Linked DNA regions of Homo sapiens: regions 1 and 3 are each linked to region 2. The links come from fine-mapping of genetic effects on gene expression. A gene starts in region 2. Each other region holds a variant in brackets. All regions are shown on one strand. Distances are from middle to middle.

What was found. PIP is the estimated chance that this variant, and not a neighbour inherited with it, causes the effect. A credible set is the group of variants that fine-mapping cannot tell apart.
Region 1: its variant is the best candidate, but not a certain one, in a credible set for the expression of MAPKAP1 in whole blood (INTERVAL, PIP 0.56).
Region 3: its variant is the best candidate, but not a certain one, in a credible set for the expression of MAPKAP1 in whole blood (INTERVAL, PIP 0.77).

What each region holds. Positions count from the first base shown.
Region 1 is chr9:125,549,345-125,554,713 of GRCh38, reverse strand. The region is part of intron 6 of MAPKAP1 (MAPK associated protein 1); the gene reads left to right. Among named protein-coding and RNA genes, the nearest start is that of MAPKAP1, 160 kb to the left of the region's middle. The variant C/T (reference allele first, on the strand shown) is at 2,609.
Region 2 is chr9:125,704,731-125,710,099 of GRCh38, reverse strand. It overlaps MAPKAP1 (MAPK associated protein 1), which reads left to right and starts at 2,892. Exons shown (of 12, transcript NM_001006617.3): 1 at 2,892-3,129. RefSeq lists enhancers at 2,519-2,678, 2,676-2,970 and silencers at 2,679-2,848, 2,959-3,188.
Region 3 is chr9:125,680,327-125,685,695 of GRCh38, reverse strand. The region is part of intron 1 of MAPKAP1 (MAPK associated protein 1); the gene reads left to right. Among named protein-coding and RNA genes, the nearest start is that of MAPKAP1, 24 kb to the left of the region's middle. The variant T/G (reference allele first, on the strand shown) is at 2,217.

The DNA.
Region 1 (5,369 bases), 160 kb after region 2:
AAGGACCCTCCTGCCTCAGCCTCCCAAGTAGCTGGAACTACAGGCATGTGTCACCATGCCCAACTAACTCTATTTTTAGTAGAGACAAGGTCTCACTGTGTTGCCCAGGCTGGTCCTGAACTCCTGAGCTCAAGCAGTCCTCCTGCCTCGGCCTCCCAAAGTGTTAGGATTACAGGCATGAGCCACCGCTCCTAACCTAGAAAACTCTACTTTACGTTTGGCCCACCACGCTTTCTGTTAGTATGATCAGTTTGTGATGGTTTGTCCAGGACTCTCCCTGTTTCAAAACTGAAAGTCCTGAATCTATGAGCACTCCCTGATGCTCACCTCCAACCCCTTCCTCCATCCTAGGTAAACCAGATTGGTCACTCTACTTTATCTGTTGCTTGGTCTATACATAAGTGGGCTCTGCCTGACTGATACTTGTGTATAGTGTGACTTGGCACCAAACAGCACAGATTTTTCAGAGACCAGCAAGACTGTTCATAGAGATCTTTGTGCCCACTGAATTCTGTCACCATTTTTCTCTGTTCAGCAAACAAGTTCTGTATGCAGCTTGCAGTAATGCCATTTGACTTTTACTAAGTTTGTTAGTTATGTTAAATAACTCTAGCTGCTGGAACACATAACCCCCCAAATCTCGCCACGTTATCCTAGGGTTGGCAAACTTTTTTTTTGAGATAGGGTATTGCTCTGTCACCCAGGCTGGAGTGCAGTGACATCATCTTGGCTCACTGCAACCTCTGCCTCCCAGGCTCGAGCAATCGTCCCACCTCAGCCTCCCAAGTAGCTGGGACTACAGGCATGCACCACCATGCCCAAATACTTTTTGTATTTTTTGTAGAGATAGAGTGTTGCTGTGTTGCCCAGGCTGGTCTCAAACTCCTGGACTCAAGTGATCTGCTGACCTCAGCTTCCCAAAGTGCTGGGATTATAGGCTTCAGCCACCGCTTCTAGCTCAGCAAACTTTTTCTGCAAAGGGCCAGATGGTAAATATTTAGGCTATTGGCCATAGAGTTTCTGTAACTCAGCACTGCCATTGTAGTGTGTGAGTAGCCGTAGACTACATAGACAAATGGGCATGGGGTAGGTTTGTTGGTCAACTTCTGGATTTTCCCAATAAGTTTCTTTCTTTCTTTCCGTCTTGCCCTCCCCTCCCCTCCCATTTTTTTGGGTAGAGTTTCACTCTTGTCACCCAGGCTGGAGTGTAATGGCGTGATCTTGGCTCACTGCAACCTCCGCCTCCCAGACTCAAGCGATGCTCCTGCCTCAGCCTCCCGAGTAGCTGTGATTACAGGCACCTGCCACCATGCCCTGCCAATTTTTGTGTTTTTAGTAGAGATGGGTTTTCGCCATGTTGGCCAGGCTGGTCTCGAAGTCCTGACCTCAGGGGATCTGCCTGCCTCTACCTCCCAAATCCTCCCCTGGGATTACAGGCATGAGCCACCGCGCCCAGCCTAATAATTTTATTTCTTGTTCACATTTGTCTGATGTAGGCCAGGTGACTCTCTTGGGTATTTCTCCTCTAGGCAGTGGCTCAGGGCTCCCCAGGTGGGTGGAAAATGGGGAACATGGAAGATGAGGAGTGAGGAGGGGCCTATATCTGTATCTTTATCTCATACACCCCCCCACACACACACAGTGACATATATAAAATATGTGGTGACACATATAATTTTGCTTTTAGTTCAATGAAAAGCACATATAGATATATATAGCTACACATCCATATCATACATATATTGATATGTATAGATAATACATCTCTATATGCTTTTCATTGACTAAAATCAAAATTGTTTTTAATTTAAAAAAATTTTTAGAGACAGTGTCTCACTATGCTGCCCAGGCTGGACTGGAACTCTTGGGTTCAGACAGTCCTCCTGAGTAGCTGGAACTAGAGGCTCACATCACCGTTAGAAAACAGGTTTTTAAATTCTGAAACTTAGTCTGTAAATTCATCTGTTGATTCCTGGGGGCTCTTGAACCTCAGGAAATGCTGCTGTGATTATTAATATTAGCTGAGACTCTGGCATGTAGGAAGTGTTACATAGTTGCTATTGTTATTTCTGTCAGGGATTCTCAGTGGGAATAATTTACACTAAGGTGAGAATGGGGTTTAACCTTCCTTTGAGTTATTTTTTATTATATAATTAATATGTGTCCATTATAGCAAAATTGGGAAATAGATCTGTTTCTGCATATAAAAGAAATTTTTAAATTTGTCTTCATTCCATCATGCAAAGGTTGTGAATTATATTTTATAATTATTTACATTTTTTAAAGGGGAACTAATTAATGAATTTCTCATTGGAAAATTATTCTGTGGAGGGAACGTGAAATTGGATGTCTTCTGATGTTCTTACTAAATCAGGACTAGATCTATCTAGCTTTCCCTCTAGAACCCCTGGGCCCCAGGAATCCCCTGGATAGAGTTGTTGTTCAGGGAAGGAGAATGGATTATTCTAACAACTTGCAAATTAGGAGCCTGGTAATGGAAACTGCCTCTTTTAACAAATCTTCAAGTGGATTCCTAAGCTATCCATTGTTCCTGATTGATTTTGGACAGAGCAAATATATCTATAAATGGGAATCCCTAACTTGCTGA[C/T]TACTTTGAGCTTAAGCAGTAAAGATGTTTGGATATCAGTAGTGTCAGAGAGGAGAAGTAGGGAGTGGGAGGAATGGGAAGGTTTTTGGCTGACCCCCAAAACCAGATAAAGAGCTGGAGCTCAGATAGTGCCCAGCATCTCAAGAAGTGTTTCTTGCCAGCAGTGACCAAGCCAAAGCCTACTGTTCCTTTAGACAAAGTAGGACAAGGGAGAATGAGATCTTGAGTGGGCTAAGTGCCTCTCAAGGATAGGGACCTGCCTTGTTCGTCTCCTTCTCCCATTCCCAACACAGACCTAATTTAGTCAGAATTTGTGAGACTGAATTGAGTTCAAAAGTGGCAATGACAAAAACAACTGTGGTAGTATTATTACCTTATATGTGTTGACATTAAAGTTTCATGCCAGGATTCTACTCTGGAGTGGGGGAAGAAGGGCATTAAAGGAAAAAAAAAAAAGTCAAGGCCAATAAAATGGTCAGAATCTCCTTAGGTTAGAAGTCAGAGCAGTTAAACTGTCTCCTATATATATATGTATTTTCCTTTAAATATTTGATATATTAGAGGAACATGAGGAAGGAACAGTTCTAACCAAGAGCTCTTTGGGTAACAGCTGTCAGGTAACAGTGGAAGGTCTTAGCCCAGAAGCTGGGCTGCCTTGGGCAGGCTCCCAGAGACTACCTTGGCTTCTCTTGGCTCTGCAGAAAGGGAACGATGAGCTGCTTTTTTAAAGAGGCGTGCCCTAGGTTCATTCATGCTCTTTACTGGGCTTTTCAGAAGAGTGGGGAGTTTTAGTTTACCTTCTTGATGATAAATCCACAGTATACCCCAAGTGACCAGACCTTTATTAAAGGGTGTCATTAGCTTGAAGCCTTTCCTTCTGTTATATGCTATTGCCTTGTGGTCTAGAGAATGAAAAAAAGAGGAGGGCAGGGAGAATATTTTCACACACTCATTCAGTTTCATACCTCCAATAGATGCTATCTCATTTATTTCTTTTTTTATCATTTATTTCTTTTTTATGATATTTTAAAATTGGCCACACCCCATCAGTAAAGTTTCTTATACGCAATTCACTTTTATAATATGTAAGCTGAGGCTCAGAGACAGGTAGTTAGTTACTAATTCAAGGCCATGCTGTTTGGTAAGAGGCAGAGCTAAAATAGAATAAGGAATAAAAGAAGATGCTTGTGTTCTTTGTAACCAGGCCTGACAAAATGAGTATAAATTATCCTGGTTATTTATTGTTTGCTTGATTCATAGAGGACCAACTGTGTGTTGTTTCTTTTCATTCTGTTGTATTAGCAAACATTTTCATTGTCCAGATTGTCCTCGTGTATGGAAATGTAACATATGCAGCCTGTTTAATTTTGTATTTGTAAATCTGACTTGATTTCCTTTTTGGCAACAGCTACTGTCTAGAGAAAAGAAAGGATTTTTCTTTGTGTCTGTTTAAAGTGACAGAAATATTGGAGCAAGTGATAAAGATGGAAAGCATTAATTACACACTTCTAAGAATTTAAAGGTCAGACAAGCTAAATATGTATGTTTTGCTCACTGGAATGTCTTGAAATTGTGCCAGGATTCGCTTTGTTCCTACCATAAAAGCACACATTTTAGATAACCATCAACTTACTTTGTATCTAAAAATTATGCCAGATTGTTGCTTTAGTTAATATGTGTCTTCAAAGTCGGGGAGCTCCCATTTCTGAGCCCATGTGATTGGTTTGGTGATGCTTCCCCCTTTGGCCATGTTTAGTTACTATGTCTCATTTTGATTTCCTCTGTTCTCCCCTCAGCTTATGTCGGAGTCTGTCAGCTGCTGCTATGTACATGTCAGGCTAGTGACTTGGAATGTTTATTAATACAATGTCAGTCTTGCTGTTGAAAAAAACTGTGATGCTTCTCAGAAGGTTGTGATAGAACGAAGCGTTTGATTTCCAGATCCTGTCTGCACTGCATGGTGAATACATTCTCAGATGTTATGCAGTTCACTGACCTGACAGTTATGGAACCCCGCCTGGGACCCCATTTCAGCAGGACATATTTGAACAGAAACAGTTTGCAAAACTTTACACACTTAAACTCCTGCCAAGGCAAACTGTTAGCCACTTGAGTTTGTTATAAATACCCAGTGGCAGTGGTTGGAAGTAGCCCACGGTGTGTTTTATATTCTGAACGGAATGTGAATGTCTTTGCAGTTATATAGAGTAGTAAATAATTGAGTTTGATTAGGGAGAGGGACCTCATTATCCCCCACCTGTGCCCAGCTGGAAGGGGAGGGTCGAAATGAAGCCATTAGCTGTCTCTCTTACTGGCATCTCAAAGAGCTCAAATACATCTGTGTCTTATTTTCTTTTCTGGCACAATCAGTCGAGCAAGCTAAGCAGGCATGACCGGATTTGGCAAGTCCCAAGGACTCTGGCAAAGATACACAAGGAGAAGGCGGAGGGCAGTCATTTTGGCTTCTCACTGCCCATTAGTCTAGCGAGTTATGTTTTTGGAAAATGTCTGTTTTGAAAAAGAGTACTTTGTCCAATGTCAAACATCGCATGCTCCCACAGTACGCTTTGATCTTTAAAAAAAATTTTTGGTCAGTCTAAGGGGAAACAAAATGTGGCATTCACACTAGTGTAAACTCTTTATGGATAAAGTCATACTCAGAGGACTTATTTTAAAGCAGGCATGCTGCAGTTATTACAAGGCCTTCTCTTGCTCATATATTTTCATTTTCTACCTTGAAATGCTGGAGAATGAACATGCA
Region 2 (5,369 bases):
CACTGCATGCCAACTTACCACAGTAACTACAGTATTTCAAACCCATAGTCGAACTTGACTACAAGGCTTCTTAAGGGTAGGGTCCCCGTCTGGCTTTTTCACCACTGAATCTCAATAGGCACTCAATAAGTATTGCTTACTGACTGAGGTATACTCATACTGGTAGGCATTAGTAAATAATAGTCACATGCCAGGCTCTGTTATATGTAAGCTACATGTATTAGGTCATTCTATCCTTGCAACAAACTAATGAGGTTATGTAGGACTTCTGTCATTCCCATTTTCCAGGTAAAGATAAGAATATTTAGAGAAGCAACTTGGAGAGATGAAGTCACAAAACTTGTAAGTGGCAGAGTGAGTATTCACTTTTTATTTTTCTAATTTTTTTTTCAAGACAGGGCATTGCTCTTTCATCCAGGCTGGAGTGCAGTGGCATGATCACGTCTCACTGCAGCCTTGACCTCCCAGGGCTCAAGCAATCATCCCATCTCAGCCTCCCAAGCAGCTAGGACTACAGGCATTCACCACCACACCTGGCTAAAAAAAATATATGTGTATATGTGTGTGTATATATATATTTTTTTATTTTTTATTTTTTTGAGACAGACTCTCACTCTGTTGTCCAGGCTGGGCTGCAGTGGTGTGCTCACTGCAACCTTCACCTCCCAGGTTCAAGCGATTCTCCTGCCTCAGCCTCTCAAGTAGCTGGGACTACAGGTGTGTGCCACATGCCTGGCTAATTTTTCGTATTTTTTTTTTTTTTTTTTTAGTAGAGACAGGGTTTCACCATGTTAAGACAGGATGGTCTTGATCTTCTGACCTTGTGATCCGCACCCCTTGGCCTCCCAAAGTGCTGGGATTACAGGCATGAGCCACCGTGCCCGGCCTATATAGAGATAAATTTTTTAAGGTAGTGATGGGGTCTCACCATGTTGCCTAGGCTGGTCTTGAACTCCTGGGCTCAGATGATCTTCCTGCCTTGGTCTCTCAAAGTGCTAGGAAATATTTACTCTTTAGAATCTATAACTGCTTAGCAGTTTTAGATAGGTCGAGTTTTATGTGTCTAGGAGACAGTCAGGCAGCTGTGCTTCAGATTGGAACTCGAGAGAGAGAGAGAGGAAAATGGAGAGTAAGATTTAGGAAGGAACAGATAACCTGGTGACCTCAGAAAATCAAATATCCAAACTTGTTCACACCTGCTGCTTTGTTAGAGTGCCTCTGACAGGTCCCTGATGGAACTGTGGTGGTGTGTGTGCAAGAGTGTGTCTGGGTGCTGAGGTGCACTATTCCCCCAGTATAGATATGTGGTAAGATACCAATTACATAAAGTAATGGGATGTAGTAAGAGATCAATCACATATGGTCATGCGTGGAATGAGGATGTTTTGGTCAATGACAGAGTGCATATGATGGTGGTCCCCTAAGATTATAACATGGTCTTTTAATTGTACCTTTTCTGCATTTAGAGATGTTTAGATACACAAATACCATTGTGTTAGAATTGCCTACAGTATATGGTACAGTAACATGCTGTACAGGTGTGCAGCCTAGAAGCAATAGGCTAATACCAAACAGCCTAGGTGTGTAGTAGGCTCTGACATTGTGTAAGTACAGTCTATGATGTTTACACAACCACAAAATCAGCTAACGATGCATTTCTTGTGTCCTCATCATTAAGTGATGGATGACCATATTTGAAATACATGGGTAGACCCACCGTGTTTTTTGTTTTTTTGTTTTGAGACAGAGTCTCTGTCACCCAGGCTGGAGTGCAGTGGCCTGATCTTGGGTCACTGCAACCTCTGCCTCCCGGGTTCAAGCCATTCTCCTGCCTCAGTCTCCTGAGTAGCTGGGACTACAGGTGCACACCACCACGCCAGACTAATTTTTGTATTTTTAGTAGAGACAGGGTTTCACCATGTTGGCCAGGCTGGTCTCGAACTCCTGATCTCAAGTGATCTGCCCTCCTCGGCCTCCCAAAGTGCTGGGATTACAGGTGTGAGCCACCGTGCCTGGCCCCATGGCATATTTATTAATAAGTTTAAAATTGGGCAGGGGTCCCTCAGGGCTGAAATTCAACCTTGAGTTTTTTCTTTTGCTAAGGTGCGTTTTTGAGAGACTTCCCCAAGCATCTTTCAGGTGGGAGAACCACTCTCACTGCACTCCCTGAATCCTTTTTCCCCCTTCATCGTGGCTTTCTCTACTGATTTCCTCCGTGAGAGAGGAAGGGAGCAGCATGAGACACACTGAACTTCTGCCCTGTGCCAGTCCTCCTACATCTCCTGGAAACCTCCCAGCAGGGCTTGAGGAAGATTATTGTCACCTCCATATTACAGATATTATAATAAGAGAAATAACTAACATTGACTGCATGTTTACTATGTGTCAGGCACTATGCTGGGTGTTTTTCAAGCATCATCCCATTCGATTCCCACAGCAATATACTCTAAAGTTGAAACTATTGCCCTGGATGGGAAAACCCGAGGCTCAGAGAGAAGTGTCACATCCTAGGACACACAGCAAGTTATAAGAGCTGGCATTTGAACCCAGGTCTTTCTCAGAGAGGCTGAGCTGCCTCATCACTCATTTCTGGACGAACTAAGGGCTTTTCTCCGTGGAAATGGGGAGAAAGAAGATTCGATGGAGAAGCCTAACACTGATTCCTGCTCAAGGCAAGTCCAGGCACTGGCGCATCTTGCCAGAACTCAGTCTCCGACCCAGGCCTTTCCCTGCACTGGAGAAGCGGCGCGCATGCGCCCGGCCTCCCTCCCGGCCCCGCCCCGCGGGAAGCTACCGCTCCTTGCTTTCAGCTCTGGGGCTTGCGCACTACGTCCCCAGCCAGAGGCTCCTTCCCGGTCGGGGACTTCCGGAACGCCGGGGTGTGGTTCCGGGTCGTGTGCGGCTCGGGGTAATAGGGCTGCTGCTCGGCCGGCCGGCGGCGGCGAGCAGCAGGGGCATGAGGGCTAACCCGGGAAGCGGCAGCTGAGCGGGCCGGGAGGAGCGCCGGTCCCCGTGGATCCCGAGAGTGCAGAGCTCGGGGCAGGGGCCGGGAGGCGTGGGGGAGCCGGGCCCTCCCCTCAGGAACGTGTCCCGGGGCCGACCCGGCCCGTAGTGTGGAAGCAGCTTCAGGTAAAGGTTGCCCCAGCCGCCAGCTCCCCGCCCGTCCGTCAGCCCACCAGCTTGCCCACCTGGCGGCCCTCTCACCCCTCCAGTTTCAGCGCTGCCCGGCGGGCCGCCTGCCGGGCCCTTGTTCAGGTGGCCCGGGCGCGTTCGTTTCCTGGCCATTTCCAGAACTGGAGGCTGTCAGGAGTCTGAGGCGGGTGTGTGGTTTAGGGGAAAAGAAGCCAGCTGACCTGGTAGTGTGGGGGTGGGGGGTGTAGTTGACTCCGGCAGTTTCTGGGCCTGCACTTGGCAATATCTAGGTGCCCTGGTCTTCATAATGTGAAAATCAAGGTTTTCAAGCATTGACTGTGTGGTCCTTGTTTCCTTGCGTCCCTTCTCCCCCTCCCCCTTAAAGAGGTTAACAGCCTTACAGACTTTTTTCTAGCTACAGTGCTGCTGGAACTTTGATTCATTCTTTGTTTATGGGAGTGGCAAGGAGTCATTTAGATTTGTTTAAGGCTGGGAAAAAGAGATTGTAGCGTAAACAAGATTATGACTTTAACCAGAGACCCCCAAATTGACTCAGAAATTGGTTAAAACTTCCTTTTGAATGAATGAAAGTCACTTTGGAAGCCCACCACAGTACCTGGCACTGTACAAAGCACCATGTTGTTATAAACCCAAATCGGCAAAGTTCAAAACTTTCCCAGGTGTGAAGAGTCAAATGGAGACCCATTGGTTTAAAAAAAGCAGCGTTCTCATTCTCTGACAAGCAGGAGAGGTGGATCCGTAATGTTAAAACCCACTTGAGCAGAAGCCTAGATATGGGTTTTATTCCTTATATTTTATGAGCCCACACAAGGTACCTAGTAAACACGGAAAGAGTTCTTGATGAAGCAATAATTGTTTTCATGTTTTTCAGTTTACACACCTGCGGGATTTGGGGCATGCTGGTAGCCCTTTCCCATTCATCTGTGTGCTCATGCCTACCTTCAACTACTGTGTGTCCCAGACTGCACTTACACCCCCTTACATCTCCTAATCTGGCTCCTGGTTACCTTTCCAGTTATGCTTGAAAAGGTCTCCTTCTTTAATTACCCCATCCTGATCCATTACTCTGAATAAGTAGGATCTCTAATCATTTTTGTTCTTTCCTATTCCATTGATTTTTGTAGAACATTCTCCCTACCTTGCCTAGGTTTCCCCTTTTCTCTTTCAGTCTATTGAGACGCTTCCCACGGCTCAGCTGAGTTGGCCTCACCCAACCAATTCAGGACAACCCCACCTGGAAATGATTTTTCCTCTAGAATTCTATAAGCGCTCATTTTTATCTACAATTATTTAACTTAGCAAATGTTTACTGAATATGGATATGTATATATATGCCAGGTACCATGCTAGGCAATTAGAGATAAATATAAGATTCAGTCTTTGCTGCCAGGGAGCTCAATTTAGTGAAAGAGAGATAAGGGAAATGAATAATTCTAACACCGTGATAAGTACATTGTGTGAGAGTTCTTGTGACAGTGGTAGGTGCGGGAGGGGAATGGGTTATTCACCTTTGAGGGATGGGATGTGGCCAGGTAATGCTTCATAATTTGAGGTAAACTAAACTTTGAGTATTTGGGTATTATATAGGGGTTTCTATTGTTTAATCATTTTAACCTCAATTTACAGATTAGGAAGACCCATAATAAATTACACAGCTGGTAGGAGACAGAGCCAGGATTCAAACCCAGGTCTGTCTGATGCCTAAATCTGTGCTTTTTCCATTACATGTCTTGCCTTTTTCTCACATCATCTCCCTCTTTTTATGCAAGTACATATTGAAACCAAAAGTTATATAGGACAAAACATATGAATGTTAAAATGAATGGTACAGAAATCTTTTAAATGTAAAGACTGTGCTCTTCCAAGGCAAGGAGATGGCAGGTAGGTTAGTTAGCTCAGCTTTGAATATGAGCAGAGAAGACAGTCTATAGAAAATAGGCATGGACTCTGGATTCAATTCCTGGTCCCTGTTCTTACAGGATATGTGACCTTCGACACATAACTCCAAGCATCACTTTCTTCAACTAGGGGTTGGGTTAGGGAATAATATTGACCACATGGAGTGTTGTGAATATTTATTGAACTAATGGGGATAAAGGGCCTGGTACGTGGTAAAGTCCCCCGAAATAAATAGCTATAAGATACAAAGGTATAATGCTTGAGGCATGGTTTTAGACTGGTGAGTGAGTTTACAGCCTGAGTCATGCAAGTCATTG
Region 3 (5,369 bases), 24 kb after region 2:
AGAGAAAACCAACATGTAAACAGATTATTATTTAAAAAGAAATGCCAATGTGATTTGTTTGCGATCTTTTATTTGTTCTTTAATTCATTCATTCCTTAACATGGCAACCAGGGAGATTCTTTTAAATGTGAGACAGATCATTCACAATCCTCCAGTGACCCCTCATTTCACTTGGAGTAAAAGCTAAAGGCCTTGGGATGGCCTGTAAGGCCCTACAGACTCACCCCAGTCTTTCAGATCTTATTATCTACTACTTGCTCCTTGGCGGACTCCTTGCTGCTCCTTGAGCAGTGTGAGGCATGTTCCCCTCTGCTTGGCAGACCTATTCCCTGGAGTGTCTACATGGCTTGTTCTCTCACCTCCTTCAGGTGTTAAGTCAGATGTCACTTAAGTGAGGCATTCCTTGACTATTTCATTTACTGTTGCAACTCACGGCTCCACCGAGCATTATCCATTTCTTTCTCTGTGCTATTTTTCTTCATGGCACTTCTAACTCACTATATAATTTACTTCTTTGTCCTGCCATGAGGGCAGGACTTTGCCTTCTCTGCTGTGTTTTCTGCATCTAGAACAGTGCCTGGCACATAGTAGGCATTCAGTAAATATTTGTTGAATGAGTAAAATCAACAAACACTTAGCACCTTACTAACAGGCAGTGTGCTGGGTTAATTATTTGGTAGAACTAGGAACTAAGTGCAGTGAAATGGGCACATGGAGGGAGCAAGCCGGGTGCGGTGGCTCAGGTCTGTAATCCCAACGCCCTGGGAGGCCGATGGGGAGGATCGCTGGAATCCAGGAATTCAAGACCAGTCTGGGCAGCATGGTGAGACCTTGTCTCTGCAAAAAATTAGCCGGGTGTGGTAGTGCATGCTTGTAGTCCCAGCTACCTGAGAGGCCAAGTTGGGAGGATCGCCTGAGCCCAGGAGGTTAAGGCTACCGTTGAGCTGGATTTTGAATAATATGTTAGGAGGTAGTCAGGGGAAGAAGGGTGAAAAGGCTTCTCAGACCAAGGGCTAAGTCTTACGGAATGCAACTTGTCTTTATTGTAGTTGTTTGGGCTTTGGCGCTCCTTAGGGTAGACTAAAACTTCAGAAAACAGACTTGAACTTTTTTAGCCCTTAGAAGGTTTAAGCATAGATTTTAGTAGCAAAGTTCTATAGTTTAGTTTCAGTATAAACAAAACAGTTTCGAGGGAGTTGAAAATTACCACAAATTTAGTGGCTTCAAACCTCACATTATTGTGGGGTTTTTCAAGCTTGGCATTATTCATATTGATATTTGGGGAGGTATAATTTTTTGTTGTGGATGCTGCCTTGTGCATTGTACCATGTTTACTAGCGTCACTGGCATCTACCCACTGGCTACTAATAGCAGCCATCTCTAGTTGTAACAGCTGGAACTATCTCCAGATATTGATTGCTTAAATGTCTCCCAGGAAGAAAAACCGGCTTCCATTTGAACCATTACATTATCGTTGATGGAATCTGTAACAACTTCACAAATGATTTGGGGAGAGATTTATACCTTAATGAAGTAACCATATTTATGAATCTAGAATTGGGTAAATTTAAAATTGTTGGTTCCTTAAAAATAATATTCATATGACTCACTGTAATGATGGTAGAAATAAAATGCTATTAAAATAGGTTGGACTCTGGGTGATATAGAAGGGTTTACCAAGGATGAGATACTTCTGTTGGACTTACAAGAATAAGATTTGTATTGGAGAAGGGTACACCTGAAATAAAGGAGTATCATTACCAAAGGCCAGCACATATTCAGTGCAGTCCTGGAAGTTGCAAGATGGGGAGGGAAGAGGTAGTGAAATTGCATTTTAGAGAGCCTTATGTGTTATATGTGAAGGGTTATAGGCTTATTTTCCTTCACTATGCTGAATTCATTTTCTTTTGCTGCATGACAAATTACCACAAACTTATCTGCTTAAAACGATATGAATTTATGATTTCACGGTGAGTCAGGAGTCATGGCTTCAGCTGAGTTTTGTGTTCATGCTCTTAAAGGGATGAAATTAAGGTGTCAGCTGGCTATATAGCTCATCTGGAGGCTCACTAGGGAAAGATCTTCCAATCTCTCTCAGGTTGGGTAGTGGAATTCATTTCCTTGCGGTGATATGACTAAGATCCTCCTTCTCTTGCTAGTGGTTGGCCAGGACCATTTTCAGCTCCTAGAGGCTGCTCTCAGGTCCTTGCCATGTG[T/G]AGTTCCATAACATAGCTGTTTGCTTCTTCAAGGCCGGCAAGAAGATCTCTCTGGCTTAGAATTGCTCTCTTCAGGTGGCTAAGATGGAGTCTTATATAATGGAAAGTAATCAAGGAAATGACTGTCCCATCACCTTTGCCATGTTTTATTGGCCAGAAAGAAGCAAGTCAGATTCCACCCACACTCAAGGGTAGGGGACAACAGAAAGGGGCAAGAATTTAAGCCAGGCGCAGTGGCTCATGCCTGTAACCCCAGCACTTTGGGAGGCTGAGGTGGGTGGATCGCCTGAGGTCAGGAGTTTGAGACCAGCCTGCCCAACATAGTGAAACTCCATCTCTACTAAAAATACAAAAAAATTAGCTGGGCGTGGTGGCGGGCACCTATAATCTCAGCTACTAGGGAGGCTGAGGCAGGAGAATCGCTTGAACCTGGGAGGCGGAGGTTGTGAGCTGAGATCGCACCATTGCATTCCAGCCTGGGCAACAAGAGCAAAACTCCGTCTCAAAAAAAAAAAAAAAAGAATTTAAAATTCTATCTACTGGGTCCACCCTCAGAAGATCCATGAAGGCAGTGGCCAAAAGTCTTTATTTTTGCTCAGCAGTGTATCTTTGGTGCCCAGCATGTAGTAAGTGCCTTATAAATATTTGTCAAATGAATGAAACCAATGAATGAATATTTGGTAGACAATTGAGTGCTAGTTACAGCTTAAGCTCCTAAACCGGTAATTTCACATTGAGAAACAGTCTAGTTCTTTTGGCATTATTTATATTCTTCAGTTTAGGTAAAACTAGTAAACATTTTGACCCAAGATCTTAAAGTAAAACGTAAAATTGTTTATTTTCACAAGTGTCAGTCAAATCTATTATGTCAGAGAGACAACACCCATTGGAAAAATAATTTAGGGGCCACATTATACCGAACTGGCAGATTTCTTGTAACAGCTGGAAATGTTGGCAGGTTTGAAGTTTTGGGGGTGGTGGGTGGTTAGGTTGTTTGAAGTTTCACAGCTATTGCTAGCACATAAACATTATTTCAAAACACTTTGAAAATACAGATTGTTTTATAATAGCTGAATAACAGTATTTTATTCTAACTTGTGCTTAGAACTTTATAGTTTAGTGTGGTTTATACTTAACAGTTCTTCAACCTTATAGGAAACATCTTTTGAGTAAAATTTAGAGTTTTGAGTTGTCCATTGATAAAGTGCCATTTTATCTGTACAAAATGACATTTCTGATACCAAAGTCTATGTTTTTCCACTAGATCCTTGCCATTCAAACTGAGGTTAAGAGAGTCCTAGGATGTGCCAGGGTGTAGTGGAAGCTACAAAGTAACCATGGTACATTTTCCTGAAGTATCAATTTTAGTGATGTATTTGAAGATAAACATTTTTTTTTCCTGTTAAAACAAACATAGGGGAGGGGCACAGTGGCTCATGCCTGTGATCCCAACTCTTTGGGATGCCAAAGTGGGAGTATCGCTTGAGCCCAGGAGTTTGAGACTAGCCTGGGGAAGATGACAAGACTCTTGTCTCTACAAAAAAATTTAAAAATTAGCTGGGTGTGGTGGTGCTTGCCTGCAGTCCCAGGCTGGGGTGGGAGGATCACTTGAGCCCGGGAAGTCAAGGCCGCAGTGAGCTGTGATCACACAACTGCACTCCAGCCTGGGTGACAGAGCGAGACGCTATCTCTGTAAACAAACATACATAGGTGCAGTGTAGTATAAAATAGAATACAAAATATGAATGAATTCTAAAAATAAATTTCTTATGGTGTGTTACTGTAGGTGGCTCCCCTAGGTTGTCTCATACCTTGATTTATGGTCACTGTCCCATGCCCTTCAGGTGTGTCCGTGGAGAAGTGTGAGAATCACTCTACCAGGTTCTTTTTTAACTGGATCTTGGCAGATGTAAGATTCTGAGGCATTTCGAGGTTAGTGGCATAAGACAAGAAAACCAGGGATCAGGGTTCCTTTGTCTGAGGGAGACATTTGATAGAAGAAGAGACTGTGCCTCCTGGTAGGTTAGTGGGAGGCTTGTCCCTGATGACTTAATCACTCATGGGGCCTCAGCAGGACAGCTGGAATGACAGAGATGGCTGAGCTTCTTTCTCCCCATAGTCTTTTACCCCTGACTTTTTCCCATAATTCAGAAGTGGTCCAGAAGAGGCCAGGGCAGAAGCTGCAAGCGCTCTTGAGGCCAAGGTTCAGAATTTCCACAACATTCCTTCCCCTATATTCTGTTGGTCAAAGCAAATCGCAGTGTGAGTCCAGATTCAAGGATGAGGAAATAGACTCCACCTCTTGATGGGAGGAGCTTCAAAAATTGTGGTCTTAAAAAATCTACCTTGTCTCCTTGGGCAAGATACTTAACTCCTTTAAGCCTTAGTTTTGTTTGTTTTTAGATCTATAAAATGAGGATAGTATTAATGCCTACCTCCTGAAGTGGCTGTAAGGATTAAATATGTTGTTACATGAAAAGTGATTAGTACATCTCATGGTAAGAGCTCAGTAAATGTCAACTGTTACTGTTTCACTTGTGTTTCTGCCTAATGAAAGCATAGCTATCCTTAAATACTTCTGCCTTCCTTCCTGAAGTCTTCTGTGATGTTCCTGTCTCTTGGAAAACATGTTGTCTTAATATCTCATTTGGTGGTGGGTTTATCTTGCTTTATGTTATTGTTCCCTATGTATATGACACAGCTCCTCTGCTGAAGTTTGTAAGTAAACTTCTGGAGGGGGCAGGCCAGTATTTATACAATTTTTCATTTAGTGCTGAGATGATTTTGTGAATGAATCTCATTCAAAATAAGATAAATCATTTCTGTTATTTTAGTCTAGTAAGCACTTTTAGTCAAAATATGGAAATAAAAATGTAAAAAGAAGAAACAAACTCTCCAGATATATGGTCTCACAATTTACTGCTTAATGAAATTGGGCATATTCACATGGAGAAGATTTTAATTCCCTGAGGGGGAAAAAAGCTCAATTTTTGCTAGTCCAAAAAATAAATGAAGATTTAATTTAGAGTTAAATTGGAGTTAGAGAAAGAGATTTAAAAGCAATAAAGTGTTTTATTTTAATGGTCACTTCAATTATTTTCGAATTCCAGGAGGTATGAATTCTGAGCTTTAACTAGATCAAAGGATGTTGAA